2 separate regions of the Homo sapiens genome follow, and region 2 is linked to region 1. Evidence: fine-mapped expression QTL. Tissue or cell type: cerebellum. Region 1 holds a variant in brackets; the other region holds the start of a gene. All regions are shown on one strand. Distances are between the middles of the regions.

Evidence for each region. PIP is the estimated chance that this variant, and not a neighbour inherited with it, causes the effect.
Region 2: ABCA7 starts here. The variant in region 1 is fine-mapped to the expression of ABCA7 in cerebellum (GTEx, PIP 0.94).

The regions. Positions count from the first base shown.
Region 1 is chr19:1,072,678-1,080,677 of GRCh38, reverse strand. ARHGAP45 (Rho GTPase activating protein 45) reads right to left here. Exons shown (of 23, transcript NM_012292.5): 3 at 7,386-7,529; 4 at 7,088-7,172; 5 at 6,932-7,004; 6 at 6,664-6,730; 7 at 6,437-6,574; 8 at 6,271-6,335; 9 at 5,954-6,064; 10 at 5,799-5,879; 11 at 2,633-2,821; 12 at 838-975; 13 at 560-750; 14 at 299-423; 15 at 131-214. Among named protein-coding and RNA genes, the nearest start is that of ARHGAP45, 9.5 kb to the right of the region's middle. RefSeq lists silencers at 3,143-3,232, 5,580-6,109, 6,120-6,229 and enhancers at 3,403-3,542, 4,914-5,208. The variant G/T (reference allele first, on the strand shown) is at 4,652.
Region 2 is chr19:1,036,527-1,044,526 of GRCh38, reverse strand. ABCA7 (ATP binding cassette subfamily A member 7) reads right to left here and starts at 4,420. Exons shown (of 47, transcript NM_019112.4): 1 at 4,331-4,420; 2 at 3,100-3,302; 3 at 2,924-3,017; 4 at 2,555-2,696; 5 at 2,351-2,463; 6 at 2,130-2,212; 7 at 1,701-1,781; 8 at 1,276-1,486; 9 at 1,054-1,193; 10 at 686-802. The coding sequence starts at 3,165. CNN2 (calponin 2) reads right to left here. Exons shown (of 7, transcript NM_004368.4): 6 at 7,965-8,000; 7 at 5,462-6,902. The coding sequence ends at 6,627. RefSeq lists enhancers at 2,576-3,373, 5,266-5,765, 5,766-6,267, 5,855-6,414 and a silencer at 3,285-3,424.

The DNA.
Region 1 (8,000 bases):
GCGGGAATCAGGACTGTTCAGACTCCCCCAGCCAGGGGGGCCCCCTCCATCACCCCGGTGGGTGATGAAACCCTGAGGCTCAGGAGAGGAGGCAGCTCCACACCCCAGCCCGCCAGAGAGCCTCCCTCACCTGCGCCAGGGCCGGGGTCCAGCCCACTGTCCGAGTCTGAGATCGAGAGCGGCCATGACTTGTGAACCTGGTGTCCTCGCCCGGCTGGAGAAAGAGGCGTCTCTGGTGAAGGGCCAGGGTGGGTCGCAGGGAGCCAGCGTCCGCCCCTGGGCCCCGCCGGACACTCACCCCTGTGGTCCTTGGCAGGTGTGCCCTCAGTGCACCCGCCTTCTTCTGGGGGGCTCCCGGCAGCCTCCGGCCGCGCCACATCACTCACGTTGAAGCTGCTCTTCCGGGCACGCATGACGGGGGACCTAGTGGAAGAAACCGGGAAAAGGAGGGGAGGTGATGGGGGGCAAGACAGCTTCATCTTCATGCCCCCGACAGAGGGAAGCCCGGCTCCCAGGCAGGGCCTTGTGCGCCGGGGACAGGGCAGCTGGGTGGCGGTACCAGGCGTTGGCGGAGACGTGGGGCTCAAAGTCGTAGTGCACATCGGGCTCCTGGTCCCGCTGCAGCTGGCGCACGTGGGAGGCGTACTGCTGGCCTGGGTCATACAGCTTGCTGCTCTCACACAGCATCTGGAAGTGCACGGGCAGCGGCGCCGTCTGCATATGCATCATCTGGTAGTAGGAGATCGTGGCCTGCGGGCGGCACCGGAGAGCGGAGGGGTCAGGAGGAGGCCGCCCGGTCCACCATCCCCGCCCGGGCGGCCGGAGCACCCCACGCACCGACTTGATGGTTTGGTCGCTCTGCCGGATGACCTCCTGGATCTGCCGCAGCGCCGTCACCTTGGTATCCTCCAGCTCCTGCTTCTGCGTCTTCGCGTCGGCCACGCAGGTGCGGTAGGTGGCCATAGCTTCCTCCGCCTGCGGTGGGGGCGGGGCGCACAGAGAGAGGCCTCAGCCCGGGGTGCAGGACTCAGACAGAAACCTCAGGGAGGCGGGGCTGACGCCTGTCATCCCAGCGCCTCGGGAGGCCACAGTGGGAGACTTGCTTGAGGCCAGGAGTTCGAGACCAGCCTGAGCAACATGGTGAGACCCTCCCCATCTTTTTTTTTTTTTTTTTGAGATGGAGTCTTGCTCTGTAGGCCAGGCTGGAGTGCAGTGGTACGATCTCAGCTCACTGCAACCTCCACCTACCGGGTTCAAGCAATTCTGCCTCAGCCTCCCAAGTAACGGATTACAGGTGCCCCCCACCCACCATACCCGGTTAATTTTTTGTAATTTTAGTAGAGATACAGGGGTTTCACCATGTTGCCCAGGCTGGTTTCGAACTCCTGGCCTCATATGATCTGCCCGTCTCAGCCTCCCAAAGGGCTGGGATTACAGGTGTGAGCCACCACACTCAGCCTGAGACCCCCATCTTTATAAAGAATTTTTTTTTTTTTTTGAGACAGAGTCTCGTTCTGTCGCCCAGGCTGGAGTGCAGTGGCGCGATCTCGGCTCACTGCAAGCTCCACCTCCCGGGTTCATGCCATTTTCCTGCCTCAGCCTCCCGAGTAGCTGGGACTACAGGCGCCCACCACTACGCCCAGCTAATTTTTTGTATTTTTAGTAGAGACGGGGTTTCACCCTGTTAGCCAGGATGGTCTTGATCTCCTGACCTTGTGATCCACCTGCCTCGGCCTCCCAAAGTGCTGGGATTACAGGCGTGAGCCACTGCGCCCGGCCAAGAATTTTTTTAAATTAGCTGGGTGTGGCGGCACACGCCTGTGGTCCCAGCTACTCTAGAGGCTGAGGCGAGAAGATTGCTTGAGCCCAGGAGGTAGAGGCTGCAGTGAGCCATGATCACGTCACTGCACTCCAGCCTGGGTGACAGAACAAGACACTGTCTCAAAAATAATAATAATTTAAAAATCGGGGCCGGGCGCGGTGGCTCATGCCTGTAATCCCAGCACTTTGGGAGGCCGAAGTGGGTGGATCATGAGGTCAGGAGTTTGAGACCAACCTGGCCAAGATGGTGAAACTCTGTGTCTACTAAAAATACAAAAAAATTAGCTGGGCTTGGTGGCAGGGTGGCTGAGGCAGAGAACTGTGTGAACCTGGGAGGCGGAGGTTGCAGTGAGATCTCACCACTGCACTCCAGCCTGGGCAACAGAATGAGACTCTGTCTCCAAAAAACAAATTGGCCGGGCGCAGTGGCTCATGCCTATAATCCCAGCACTTTGGGAGGCCGAGGTGGACGGATCACGAGGTCAGGAGATCGAGACCATCCTGGCTAACACAGTGAAACCCCGTCTCTACTAAAAATACAAAAAATTAGCCAGGCGTGGTGGCGGGCGCCTGTAGTCCCAGCTACTCGGGAGGCTGAGGCAGGAGAATGGCGTGAACCCGGGAGGCGGAGCTTGCAGTGAGCCGAGACTGTGCCACTGCACTCCAGCCTGGGCGACAGAGCAAGACTCCGTCTCAAAAACAAACAAAAAAACAAAAAAACAAAAACAAAGGTCTGGAGGTAGTAAATGTCACACCAAGCATTGGATCTCCTCCTCCAGGGACCTCCAGCCCTGCCTCCACCCGCCCTCACCTTGTTCTTGGCCTCCTCCTCCAGCCGCCGCCGCTTGTCCAGGGTCTTGGTGGCCGTGCTGCCTGCTCCCGGCGCGCTGCCAGCCTGCTCCTCCTCCGCCTTGGCCACGAGGAAGCGAGCCTTGTCGTGGTCCTCGCAGCGCTGCACGTAACCCTGCTTGGCCTTGCGCAGGTTGGACTCCGCCTCTTGCTGTGGGTGTGGGAGCCAGGAGGCCAGTTCCAACCCTATCCTCGGATGGGACTCAGTCTCCCCAGCTCCTCCTTTCCTCCCCACCCCCATCTCTCTCAGCAAGGCCCCATGGCCCAGCTGGGCATGCAGAGGACCCTGCACAACAATCGGCAGCGGAAAAACAGGAGGAGTGGCCGGGCGCGGTGGCTCACGTCTGTAATCCCAGCACTTTGGGAGGCCGAGGCAGGTGGATCACTTGAGGTCAGGAGTTTGAGACCAGCCTGGCCAACATAGTGAAACCCCGTATCTACCCAAAATTTAAAACAATTAGCCGGGCATTGTGGTGCACGCTTGTAATCCCAGCTACTCGGGAGGCTGAGGCACTAGAATCGCGAACAGCTTGAACCCAGGAGGCGAAGGTTGCAGTGAGCCAAGATTGCATGCACCACTGCACTCCAGCCTGGGCAACAGAGATTCCAGCTCAAAAAAAAAAAAAAAAAAAAGAACGGGAGGAGGCACCCGTAACAGGACACTCGGAGAAATGGGTGTCCTGTGTGCCCACTCTGCAGCCCGGGAAGCTGAGGTGCAGCCAAGCTCTGCACAGAGGCTCACACGGCAGCCTCTGCAGACACGCACACCAGCCCCCACGGGAGCGTCTCCGGGCTCTTTTGCTTTCACTTCCCTCCTCACAGACGAGAACAGAGAAGCCGCCCAGGCAGGAAGCCAGGCGCCCACAGGTTGGCAGGAAGAGCACTTAGTCAAAAACCTGTGGGCTCGGGGGCCACACCTCACAACCTGCACCATCAGATTCGCACACAAACAAACGGACTCATCCAATTACTAGGAGACCGCCAGGCGCCATGGGTCACACCTGTACTCCCAGTGCTTTGGGAGGCCGAGGCAGGAGGATCACTTGAGGCCAGGAGTTTGAGACCAGCCTGGTCAACATAGTGAGACCCCATCTCTACAAAAAAATTAAAAAATTTAGCCAGACGTGGTGGCGCACACCTGTGGTCCTAGCTACTCGAGACCAGCCTGGCCAACATGATGAAACCCCATCTCTACCAAAGATATAAAAATTAGCCAAGCACGGTGTCTTATGCCTATAATTCCAGCACTTTGGAAGGACAAGGTGGGCAGATTACCTGAGGTCAGGAGTTCGAGACCAGCCTGGCCAAGGTGGTGAAACCCCATCTCTACTAAAAATACAAAAATTAGCCAGGCATGTTGGCTGGCGCCTGTAATCCCAGCTACTTGGGAGGCTGAGGCAGAAGAATCGCTTGAGCCCAGGAGATGGAGGTTGCAGTGAGCTGAGATCGATCCACTGCACTGCAGCCTGGGCAACAGAGTGAGGCTCTTGTCTCAAAAAAAAAAAAAAAAAAAAAAAAAAAAAAGACTACTGCCAACAATCACAGGTTTCTACCTGGCAAAATAGGCCACAGGTAAAAATCAAAAGTCAAACAGTAAATTGTGGGAGGGGAATGGGGGGAGTCTAAAACTCACATGATTAAGGCCTAAGTTCTCTAATATGTAAAAAGCTCTGACAAATCAATGATAAGCCACTGTCCAGTACAAAGTAAGCAAAGGATAAGAACTAAGCAAAGGTTAAGAACTGAGGGTTCACAGAAGAGGAAAAGCAGGGCTGTGGCCTGGGAGGGTAGCTCATACACGCACGCCCCTTGACCCAGCAGTTCTATTTTGGGCACTGATCCCTCAGGCATCCTTGAGACAGGGGCACAAGCTTGTCATAGCAATGGTGTTCGTAACAGCAACAGCTCAGCCACTCCCAAGACGTCCATGAAATAACCTACTCAATCTCCTCAGCTGAGCCCTGCACAGCCGAAAAAAGGG[G/T]TTCAGGCTGCTTCATGCTGACTGATATCGGGTGAGCCTCTCTATATGGAGGTGAGGATAAAAATCAGGAGCAGAACAGGGCATGAGGTGAGCTGTCCTCGTGTGTACAAAACAGGGCAGATATGTGTTTGCCGGTATGTGCTGGAAGGAGCTAGGAGGGTGCGTTTCACTGCAGACCGTGTTAACACAGCTAAAAAGCAAACAAAAACTGGGCAACATAGTGAGTATACAAAAAATACAAAAAAATGAACTGGGTGTGATGGCTGGTGCCTGTAGACCCAGGAACTCAGGAGGCTGAGGTGGGAGGATCATTGCAGCCCAAGAAGGCAAGTCTGCAGTGAGGTATGATTGCGTCACTGCAGTCCAGCCTGGGTGACAGAGCGAGACCTTATCTCAAAACAAGCAAAGAAACAAACAAAAAGGCGCCGGCGTCTTTGAAATAACCCAAAAGCGAAGTGGGAAGAGAATACAGGCAGGAGGCCGGGTGGGTGCGGTGGCTCACGTCTGTAATCTCAGCACTTTGGGAGGCCGACGCGGGTGGATCACCTGAGGTCAGGAGTTCGAGACCAGCCTGACCACTATGGTGAAACCCCGTCTCTACTAAAAATACAAAAATTAGCCAGGTGTGGTGGCGTGCTTCTGTAATCCCAGCTACTCGGGACGCTGCGACAGGAGAATTGTTTGAACCAGGGAGATGGAGGTTGCAGTGAAAGCCTAGATGGTGCCATGGCACTCCAGCCTGCAGCCTGGGCGACAGAGCGAGACTCCGTATCAAAAAAAAAAAAAAAAAGAATACATGCAGGAGCATGGCGCTTTCCCAGTCCTGAGAGACCATCAGTCTCCCTCAACCCGGAGACCAGCTGCTTACAACCGAGGGAGGCACGGCTTCTCCCCATTTCTGCAGGGACAGCAGTGAGCGCCGGGCTCCTGGGTCCTTCCAGGCAGAGCTGGGGGCGACGGGGCTGGAGCATCTCCGACCCGGCTTGGCGTTGGGGGGGGCGGCCCAGCCTGCGAGGCCGCGCATGCGCAGGAGGCCGGGGCGTGTGCGGAGCTCGCCGCAGGGCCCTCGCTATGGGGCTGGGGCTGGGACTGCGCCTGCGCCGAGGCCCGCTGCCCGCCCCCGCCCGCCCCCGCCCGCCCGCCTCACCAGCTTCCTCTGGGCACGGTGCCAGGCCTCCTTGATCTCCTTCCTGCGCTTCTCGTGTTCAAGCCGCCGCAGGGTCAGGGGCTGGGGCGAGACGGGCCGTGAGTGGGTACCCCGGTGACACCCCCGCCCAGCCCGCCCTCCCGGGCACCACGCACCTGCATGAAGGTCTGGGTCTGCAAGGTGCCCACCGCCTGCACCATGCTGTGGCCGAACTCCAGGTCCTGCTCCAGGGCCAGCGAGTAGATGGACAGGAGCGGCATGTGGGGCTGTGGGTGGGGCACCGGCTCACTGGGTGGGGAGGGATGGAGGCAGGGCGGCCCCAGCACCCCCAGCCACCAGCTCCCTGGTCCCTGCAGCCACCCCCGTTAATGTAGAGGGGAAGCCCCTGCTCTTGGTCCCTGGGCCCTTGAAATGGGGCTGAGACTCACACCCGGGCCCAGGGACCCCCGCCCCGTGCCCGCGGGGCCCCCACCTCCTGCATGACGCTCTGTCTGCAGTTGTGAGCGATCTTCTGCAGGCCCTTGGCAAACTCCATCTCTGCGGGCCGGAGAGGGGTGTGAGGTGCTGGGACAAGGCCTTCCCAGCTCACCCAGAACCCCCTCCCTCCAGACCCACCCTGCTGGGACACCAGCTCTCACCCAGCGTCGTCCGCTTCTCCAGGTAGCTGATGAGGTCCTTCATGTACTTGGCCATGTTCTTGGCATACAGCAGTGCGGCATCCACGCCCCCCTCACAGCGCTGTAGCAGCACGTCCACCTCCTCGGCGGGCAGGCAGCCTGCAGGGAACGGGGGCCTGCTCAGCCTGGCCCGACCCGCGCAATGGCCCACCCCTCAAATGCCTGCCTGCCGCTGGGTGGGGGCTTACCGGCGTCACAGTCTTCCAGGCTGGGAGGCGTGCCCTCACTGCCCGGTCCATACAGGCTTTCCATGGACTGTAGGACGGAGACGCAGGTGAGACCAGCCCCATGCGGGGCCCTGGGCAGTGCCCACCCTTCAGGGGACGGTTGCTGCCTCCCCCAGAGAGGGAAACCAAGGCGCACAGGGGAAGCAGGGTGACTGTCTGGGCCCTGCAGACCTGAACCCGGCTGGCCTCCAGAAGCTGGACACAGGTGGCCCTGGCCCACCCCACTCACCTGGCTCGAGTCCCCAGGAGGCACTGCTAGGAGGGTGCTGCTGTCCACTTCACCCATGAGGAACTCGGACACTCTGCAGGGCCAGCGAGGTCACCATCGAGAGACACCCGGGCCCCCCACGCTCCCTTGCCCTGCCCCACAGGCTCCCGTGCTCACGTGCTACTGAAGGCCACAGCAATCGTCTCCAGGGCCTTCTCGAACTCCTGTTTCTCCAGATCATTGTTGCTCTCATAATGGAAGGCTGGGAAGCAGAGATAAGGACAAGGAGGTGGGCCCACTCTGGGAGGTGACCATCCCTGCAAGAACTGACCGGAGCCCTTAACCCAGGGGGAACAGGAGGGAGCTTGTGCCTGTCAAACTCCTATGCATCCTTCAAAACCCACTTCAAACATCCCCTCCTCCAGGATGCCCTTCTAGGCAGAGAGCCCTCGCAGCCCTGTTCCAGCAGGCTGACCTTTGACCTTGGCAATGAGGGTGCCGGCTGCGGTGAGCGTCTCCACGGTGTTCAGCAGCGGGTACTTGGAGATGATCTGATGCATGACACGCAGAGCCTCACCCAGGCACTCGTGGGCCCGCGGGCGGCGGGCCTCAAGGAGGTCTGCTGGGGAGAGTCGGAGTGAGCAGTGGGGTAGGGCCCAGTCCCAGGGAAAGTCTGTCCACCTCCTCCCTCTTTAGAGCTCCTGTTCCCAGATGGGGAAACTGAGGCAGAGGTGGAAGACGGCAGATGCCTGGGGCTCATTTCGAGACCGCGGGGAGGGCACTGTCCCTCCCTGGGCTACCGGCCAGATCAACAAAGGCCAGACGTTGGCCTAGGCACTCTGCTGCTCAGAACACTCTTTTCTTGTCCCTCCAGAAAGCAAACTGCCTCTTGTCCTTCAAGCTACAGTCCTGCAGCCCCTTCCTCCATGCAGCCCACCAGGCTCCTTCCCTGCCCTAACTCCTCAGGACTGCTCAAAGCCCTGTCCAGGTCTCTCTCTGCCCTTCCTAAGTGAGGAAACTGAGGCATAGAGAGGGGAAGCCATTTCTCAACAATCACACAGCTTTTCCATCTACGCTAGCTCTGAAGGCG
Region 2 (8,000 bases), 36 kb after region 1:
GCCTGTAATCCCAGCACTTTGGGAGGCGAGGCGGGTGGATCACCTGAGGTCAGGAGTTCGAGACCAGCCTGGCCAACATGGTGAAAGCCCATCTCTACTAAAAATACAAAAAGTAGCCGGGAGTGGTGGCGCATGCCTGTAATCCCAGTTACTTGTGAGGCTGAAGCAGGAGAATTGCTTGAATCCAGGAGGCGGAGGTTGCAGTGAGCCAAGATCTCGCCACTGCAGTCCAGCCTGGGCAACAGAGTGAGACTCCATCTCTTAAAAAAAAAAAAAAAAAAAAAAAAAGCAGGACGTGGTAGTTCACGCCTGTAATCCCAGCACTTTGGGAGGCCGAGGCGGGTGGATCACGAGGTCAGGAGATCGAGACCATCCTGGCTAACATGGTTAAACCCCGTCTCTACTAAAAATAAAAAAAAAAAATCATCCGGGCGTGGTGGTGGGCGCCTGTAGTCCCAGCTACTCAGAGGGTGAGACAGGAGAATCGCTTGAACCCGGGAGGTGGAGGTTGCAGTGAGTCGAGATCACGCCACTGCATTCCAGCTTGGGCGACAGAGCGAGACTCCATCTCAAAAAAAAAAAAAAAAAAGTGGGGGTCTGCACGGAGCCCACCTTCCCATCCACCGGGCCTGTCTACCCTCCTCACCGGGGAGCCACATCCCACCTCCCCAGCACCCCCGCACACCTGCAGCATGGCCACATTGGAACTGTCGTTCATGAAGGTGAAGATCCGGGGTCCCAGCATCTCCCACACCTCCCGGACATCCCTCAGCAGGGTGAGCTCCTCGAAGGTCCGGTTCACCTGTGGACAGCACCCCCTCCACTGATGACCCTCTCCTCCTCTGAGGACCCCTGCCCACCCCCTGCCCCCTCTGCCTTGCTCCTGCGTGTGCCTCTGATCCTCCGCACAAGCTGATCCCCCTCCATCGGCTAACTCCTACTTCTTCAAATAGTTTCCGTGACCCTCCGGCCTGGCCCTGGCCCACCTGGACTGAGGGTACTGGATGGGCTCTGGCCACCACCCTCCCACCCCAGCATCCAGGCTGCCCCCACCTGGGCCATGAGCTTCCGGGTAAAAGGTGTATCTGGTGCAAAGAGTAGCTTCCCGAGGATCAGAGGCTTCAGGCGTCTCCAGAGCAGGCGGGACAGCGGGTGGCTGTCCAGGGCTCCAATCAGCTCCGAGCAGGCGGGGCCTGGGATGGGGGTGCCATGAGGCCCTGCCCCCCTGCCCAGAGTTCCACTTCCCAAGAGGGGAAACCGAGGTCAGTCACTCACTCAGGCTGCTGTCTGGCAGGGCGGATTCTGGCTCCTGCCCCACCAGCTCCATCAGGTCACTAGCCTCGTACCAGTTGAGGGAGGGGCCCACTGTGCTGCTAGGTCCCCTGACACTGCAGAGGGCCTCTGACAGCAACTCCAGGGGGCCGCTGGTCCCTCGGGGTCTCTGCAGCAGTGCCCGAAGCTCCACCAGGCTGCGCAGCGCCAGGAGCTAGAGAGAGGTTACCAGACGGAGCTGGCAATGATCCCACCTCCAAGCCCTAACCAGGGCAGGGCACTGGGCCAGGGGCAGCCTCTCCCTCTCGCTGTCTAATCCTCCTGAAAACCCACCCAAGGGAAGTGCCCGGGCTGCCCCAGACCCTCCCGGCGCAGGCTGCCTGCCAACGTTGCCTCCATGGGGGTTGAGGATGAGTGGGGCCTCGTACCTCCTGGGCCAGGTCCTCAGCGGCCTCCAACAAGCTGTGCAAGGGCTCCTGGGCTTGGCCCAGTGCCAACCCCAGGGATTCCTGGGGAGAAAGACCACAAGGGGGACAATGATTTTGAACACTCACTAGGGGTCCAGCGCTCTGGCCAGTTCCCAGGCAGACCATACTATCATAGCCCCCACTTTACAAATAGGGAAACTGAGGCTCTGAGAGGCAAAGGGACTCATTGGAGATCTCACAGACGAGTCTTCCTCACTGGGTCAGACACACTCTGTCTGGGGGCCCAGACGGACAAGCAGCATCACCGCAGAGACCAGGGACAGCCTGGATGCCTGGAACGGGAGGTCCTTGGCCCGGGGTGGGGCAGTGCCAGGACATCCCCAGTGCAGTGTCCCAGGAAGTCAGCGCGGTCCCGCCCCGACACCCTACCGTGCGCAGCAGTGACGTCAGCAGCTCCGCGACATCCAGCATGGGTGGTTCCAGTGGAGACTGCTTGGTTGGTTGAGGCTGGGCTGGGGGAGGAGCGCACGGGAGCATGGGGCTGGGGGGACGTTGGTCTGAGGCACCCACCCCCACCCTGTGCCCATTTCACGGCCCGGCAAGTTGAGGCTCAGAGCTCAGCCCTGCCAGAGGCCCCCCGGCCTCCTCACCCGTGCTGCGTGCAGCCCTCAGCGTGGCGATCAGCTTCCCTAGGCCAGCCAGCGTCCTGTGGGCACTGGCCCCTCCCAGCACAGTGCGGGCATCGGCTAGCAGCCGGGAGACCCTGGGGACAGAGAGAGGGCAGGAGGCGGGGTTCCGGCCGGCACTGCAGCCCCGAGTTTGCAGGCCGGCCGCACCCACTGCCTCTGGCTCACAGGGAGTCGTTGAAGTTGCTCAGGCGCCCGGGCTCCTCGCCCGGTGTCAGCTGCGGAAAGCAGGTGTTGTTCACATTACAGATGAGACCCTGGAGCCAGGGCACGGTGCCCGCCGATGGCAGTGGCTTGTTTGGGAAGTGGCCTGCGGGGAGACGCCTGGTGCTGAGGCCCTGTGGACTCTGCCTGACTCCACCCCCATCGGGTCGCCCGGCACCGCTTGCATGCCTCCAGCGATGGAGAGCTCACTCCCATGCCATGTATTGGCGGCCTGGTGAAGGCTCCCTGACATGCACGGGGGATTCCTGTGCACGGGTGAGCCATCTGCCTTCCCCTACACACACAAAGTGCCTGGTCCCTGGGGGGGCTCACATTCATGGTGCTCCAGGGGCGGGTGGGAGTGGCGAACAGCCACCAGGATGAAGAAGAGGAAGAGAGGCCACAGCAATTCGACCAGGAGCTGGACCTGGGGGAGAATAGGTGGGAGACGGTGGGGGACAGTGGGGGCTGCCTGCCCACCCGGCCCTGGTCTCACACTGGGGCGTTACCGGCTGTCTCCGGCGATACATGAAATTCTTCCAGAGCAGCAGCATCAGCTGTGTCCAGAAGGCCATGGTGAGACTGGGCAGGGGACGGGACAGAGAGGTCAGGACAACGGTCGGGCTGAAGACGTGCGGTGCGGCTGCGGGCAACTCCCTGCCCCTTTCTGAACCTCATTCCTTTATCCCACAGCGCAGGGTTCCTGGAAGCTCTGATTAGAGCGAGGCAAACAGTAGTCACTCGATAAAGAGGCTCCGCTACCCCAGGGGTGGAGTAAACCAATGGGAGCGCAACCCGCAGCCGTCCTCGCATCTGATTGGCTGCCAGGACTGTCGCTCTGAGCAGGGCTGACAGCTGGGGACTTAAAGATCATCCTCTAATCCTCCAGGGACCGAGTTTGGGCTTAACGCTTTCGTCACCAGGCTCCACCCCAAGCCTCACCTGGAAGCCTCTTCCAGGTCCTGACCCCCAGCCTCCTGCCTGGCCCAGCCCAGGCAAGGATTCCTTTCCCCTCACTGTTCTCCGAAGATAACAGCAACGAATATTGGCAGTGCTGGACATTTCACACGCCCAGGGGAAGTGCTGGACTATCACCCCACTCTACAGAAGTGGAAACCGAGGCCCAAGAAAGCAAACCCAGGCACCCAGAGAGACAGGCAGTTGCCCAGCTGGAGGCACGACCCCAGCTCTGCCCACACCTTATGTAGCATTAATCGCTCAGAGGGACCGCGGGAGCCAGAGAAAGAGTCAGGCGAAGGGGCTGGGATAGAGACTCCTGGAGTCAGCGATTCCTGATCTATTTTCCTTGGGCCGGTCCACCTCTGACACAGATGGAGAATCTGACGCTGACAGAGGGGCAGGAAGTTGCTAAAGGTGACCAGGCCGGAACTGGGACCTCAGACCCAGACCCTTACGCCAGGGTTCTTTCCTTTACATCAAGCGGGACTTAGGATCTGGGGGAGTGGGCTCAGTTTCTCCATTTGTAAGACGGGGCAAGGGGGAGTGCAGGAGTTCTAACGGGCAGGGGGCTGCAGGTGTGTGATCGGCAAAGGCCCTCTTAAGGGTCCCAGATGTCCGATGCCCCCCTTGAGAATCAGTGATCAATTCAGCCGTCGTCAACATTCACCGGAAGGAGGTCAGAGGCTGGACCCCCTAATTCCCAGGGAACTTGCATCCCTCCCGGCCCCAACCCCGCATTCTCGAGTCTCGGGCCTTCTTCCCTCTCCGAGTCCTTCTCACCTTCCAGGGGCTCCGCAGCTCTTGCCGCCTTCCCTCCGCCCAGCAGCAGGCAGGGAGCGCGCCGCCCCTTAAGCCAAGTGCGCTGAGCTTGCCCGCGCAGGTAGCAGCGCCGGGGCACGCCCCTGCCTCTGCACGCTGCTATTGGGCGACCTGCCCGTCACTCACTGGCCTGCTCCGTCGGAGCTGCGCGGGCCAAGGGAGGAGACGGGATCACAGAAGGGCCTCGCCTAGCCGGGTTTCTTAAAGGGACCGCGCGGCTCTTGCTGCATCACCGTAGGGTGGCGGAGTGCCCGGCAGGTCCCAGGCAGGCCGCCCTCCGGGAACGAGGCTGCGCTGTCTTTGGGGAGCCAGGCTGCCTCCCCACGTTGTATAACCGGCTGCAATACCGCAGCTCCGAATTGCAGGAGTTCCCTCTGTCCCCGCTGTCCCCGGGGCTGGCCAGGCTCCCTCTAGTTTAGTCCAGACTCTGGGACTACACTCGTCCGTCTGTAAAGTAGGGGTTCCACTAGATCATTCGTTCATTCATTCATTCCACGAACGCTCCTCGGCTTCTGCAGAGGATGGCAGGAGGGGGAGGGGGCCAACATTCTAGAGTCTCCGATTATAGTGGCTACCCTGATTTTGAGGAAAACCCGTTTCCCACTCTGGAAGAAGAGTTGAAATAAACTCTTCAGGCTGGAGGTGAAGCTGAAATGGGAGCGTGTGGGTCCACAGCTTTGAAGGCGCTGGGGAGAGTGAGAGGCGTGGGGACGGCTCCCGCGGCAGGAGGTGGCATTGCCGTTGGGGCTTTGAGGATAAATAGGAGTTCGCCAACGGGGAGACATCCAGGCTGAGGCCACGAGACTTGCGCTGTAAGGTAGAGTGCAGCCAAAGCGCATGGGGGGCATTTGAGGGAACTGCCTCTTCTCCAAATGGCCAGGAAGCCCAGCCTCTCCCTCTACCCCAAGTCCCGGCCCTTCAAATCATTCATTCCACCCAGACTCACCTGTGGCTTCAGCTTTTGCTCCTCCTCCCAATGGTGAGGTGGACATTTTCCCCTTGATCCCCCCATCCCCCAAGACCTCCTCTCTCCCCACAAAAGCATCAAAGCAAAGCACGCCCTCATCGACGCCAACTCTCTTGGCCACCTTCTCTTCGTACAAACAGAGGTTTTATTGCGTTTGGTCCACAGTCGTATTTCACATTATCTCACGGAGCAGGTCCCCTGGGTGGGGGGTCCCTGTGCAGTACTTGGCGGGGCATGTGGCCGGGGAAGATGGAGCAGTATAAGCTGGTCGGGCCCAGAAGGGAGGAGGGCTGGGGGCTCCTTAAAACCTACTGAGGGGCTGGGCACGGTGGCTCACACCTGTAATCTCAGCGCTTGGGGAGGCGGAGGCGGGCGGATCACACCTGAGGCCAGGAGTTCGAGACCAGCCTGGCCAACATGGGGAAACCCCATCTCTACTAAAAATACAAAAATTAGCCGGGCGTGGTGGAGCACCTGCAGTCCTAGCTACTCAGGAGGCTGAGGCTGGAGAATCGCTTGAGCCCGGAAGGTGGAGGTGCAGTGAGCCAAGATGGCGCCACTGCACTCCAGCCTGGGCAACAACCACAACTGAAAAAAAAATCTACTGAGGCCAGAGTGGGTTGGGGCGGGGAGCATGGAGAGGGGGTCAGGCTTAGCCCCAACAACTCAGAATTTCACTTCCTTGTACGGCCCTCACTTTCTCCACCTGGCCCCGGGGCAGGTCTGAGGGTCTGAAGTCTGTTGGTCTGAAGGTCCTAGGCAAATCCAGTCACTTGGGAGCCGGAGATATTTAACATCACGGCCCGGTCCCCTTTCCCAGGGGACTCATTTCCTAGCACTCTCTCCACTGTCCTTGCCCCACCCCTGGGGGAAAAAATGTATTTTTCTTTTGTGAATACTTCCTGAAACTTGCGGGCATAGAAACCACAAACTGCTCAGCTGACAAAAGGGGGAAGAGGCGAGGCAAGCAGAAACCGTCGGGGACCGGTTCCTTCCAAGCCCAGGTCTCTTCTTCCCAGCACAGCCTGAATGTGCCAGCAGGGACCCTCGCCCTACACGTATTGGGATATGGCCTTGACCCCTTCCCCCACAGCCCAGTGGCTCAGCCTTGCGAAGGATCAAGGCAAAGGGGAAAAAAGCTCTGCTGCCTGATCCCACGCTGACACTCACAGACCCTTGGTTGACTGGCAGCACTGAACGGGTTAAGAAAAAAAAAAAAAAGATGAAAACACAGAAAAACCCAAAAACCCAGATGGGCAGACGATGTGGGGAGAGAGCGTGCTGGGAGCCTCAGTAGCCGGCCTCCTCCTGGTAGTAAGGGGGATATTCAGGGACCTCCCCCGGGTCCGGGCAGTCGCCGGTGCCCGAGGGAGCCCCATCGGCCACTGTGCCTTGCGGGCAGTACTTGGGGTCATATATCTGCCGGCCCAGGCCGAAGACCTGGCCGCTCTGGTTGGCGCCCTGCGTGTAGCCCATCTGCAGGGACATGGAGGAGTTGTCACACTTGTCGGTTCCCAGCTTGGTATCATAGATGTGCCGCCGGGTCCCGGGAGCCGTCATGCCCACCTGGAGAGGAAGGAGGGGTGGAGCAGGTCATGGTGGAGAGAAGAGGGGACCTTCACTGGGTGCACTGGCTCACGCCTGTAATCCCAGCACTTTGGGAGGCCAAGGTGGGAGGATCACCTGAGGTCAGGAGTTCCAGTCCAGCCTGGCCAACACGGTGAAACCCTGTCTCTCCCAAAAATACAAAATTAGCTGGGCGTGGTGGCACATGCCTGTAATCCCAGCTACTCGGGAGGCTGAGGTGGGAGGATCACCTGAGGTCAGAAGTTCAAGACCAGCCTGGCCAACACGGTGAAACCCCATATCTACTAAAAATACAAAAATTAGCCGGGCGTGGTGGCGGGCGCCTGTAGTCTCAGCTACTCGGGAGGCTGAGGTGGGAGGATCACCTGAGGTCAGGAGTTCAAGACTAGCCTGACCAACACAGTGAAACCCCGTCTCTACTAAAAATACAAAAATTAGCTGGGTGTGGCCGGGTGCGGTGGCTCACACCTGTAACCCTAGCAGTTTGGGAGGTCAAGGCGGGTGGATTGCCTGAGCTCAGGAGTTCGAGACCAGCCTGGGCAACATGGTGAAACCCCATGTCTACTAAAAATACAAAAATTGGCCGGGTGTGGCAGCATGCACCTGTAGTCCCAGCTACTCGGGAGGCTGAGGCAGGAAGGAGAATCTCTTGAACCCGGGAGGCAGAGGTTGCAGTGAGCCGAGATCGTGCCACTGCACTCCAGCCTGGACAACAGAGTGAGATCCTATCTCAAAATAAATACATAAATAAAATAAATAAAGATTAAAAAAAAAGAATTGGGTGGACCTTTGGGCAGTCCTTAAGGGAAAATGACACAGGGTGAGGTAGTAACTTCCCTAGAGACCCACAGCCAGGTGGAAATGACAGAGGCTGAAATCCAAGGCGGAGACAGAGAGCGGGGAGGGAAGCCGGAGGTGGTCTAGGGAAGGGGCTGAGACTGAGAGTGGGGAGAGAAGCTGGAGGTGGCCCCAGGGAGGGGCCGAGACCACAGGGTGTAGAGGGGCAGGGAGAGGAGTCGGGGGCACCCGGGCGAGCCCCACCTGGCTGGCACACTTGTTCGTGCCCATCTGGAGGCT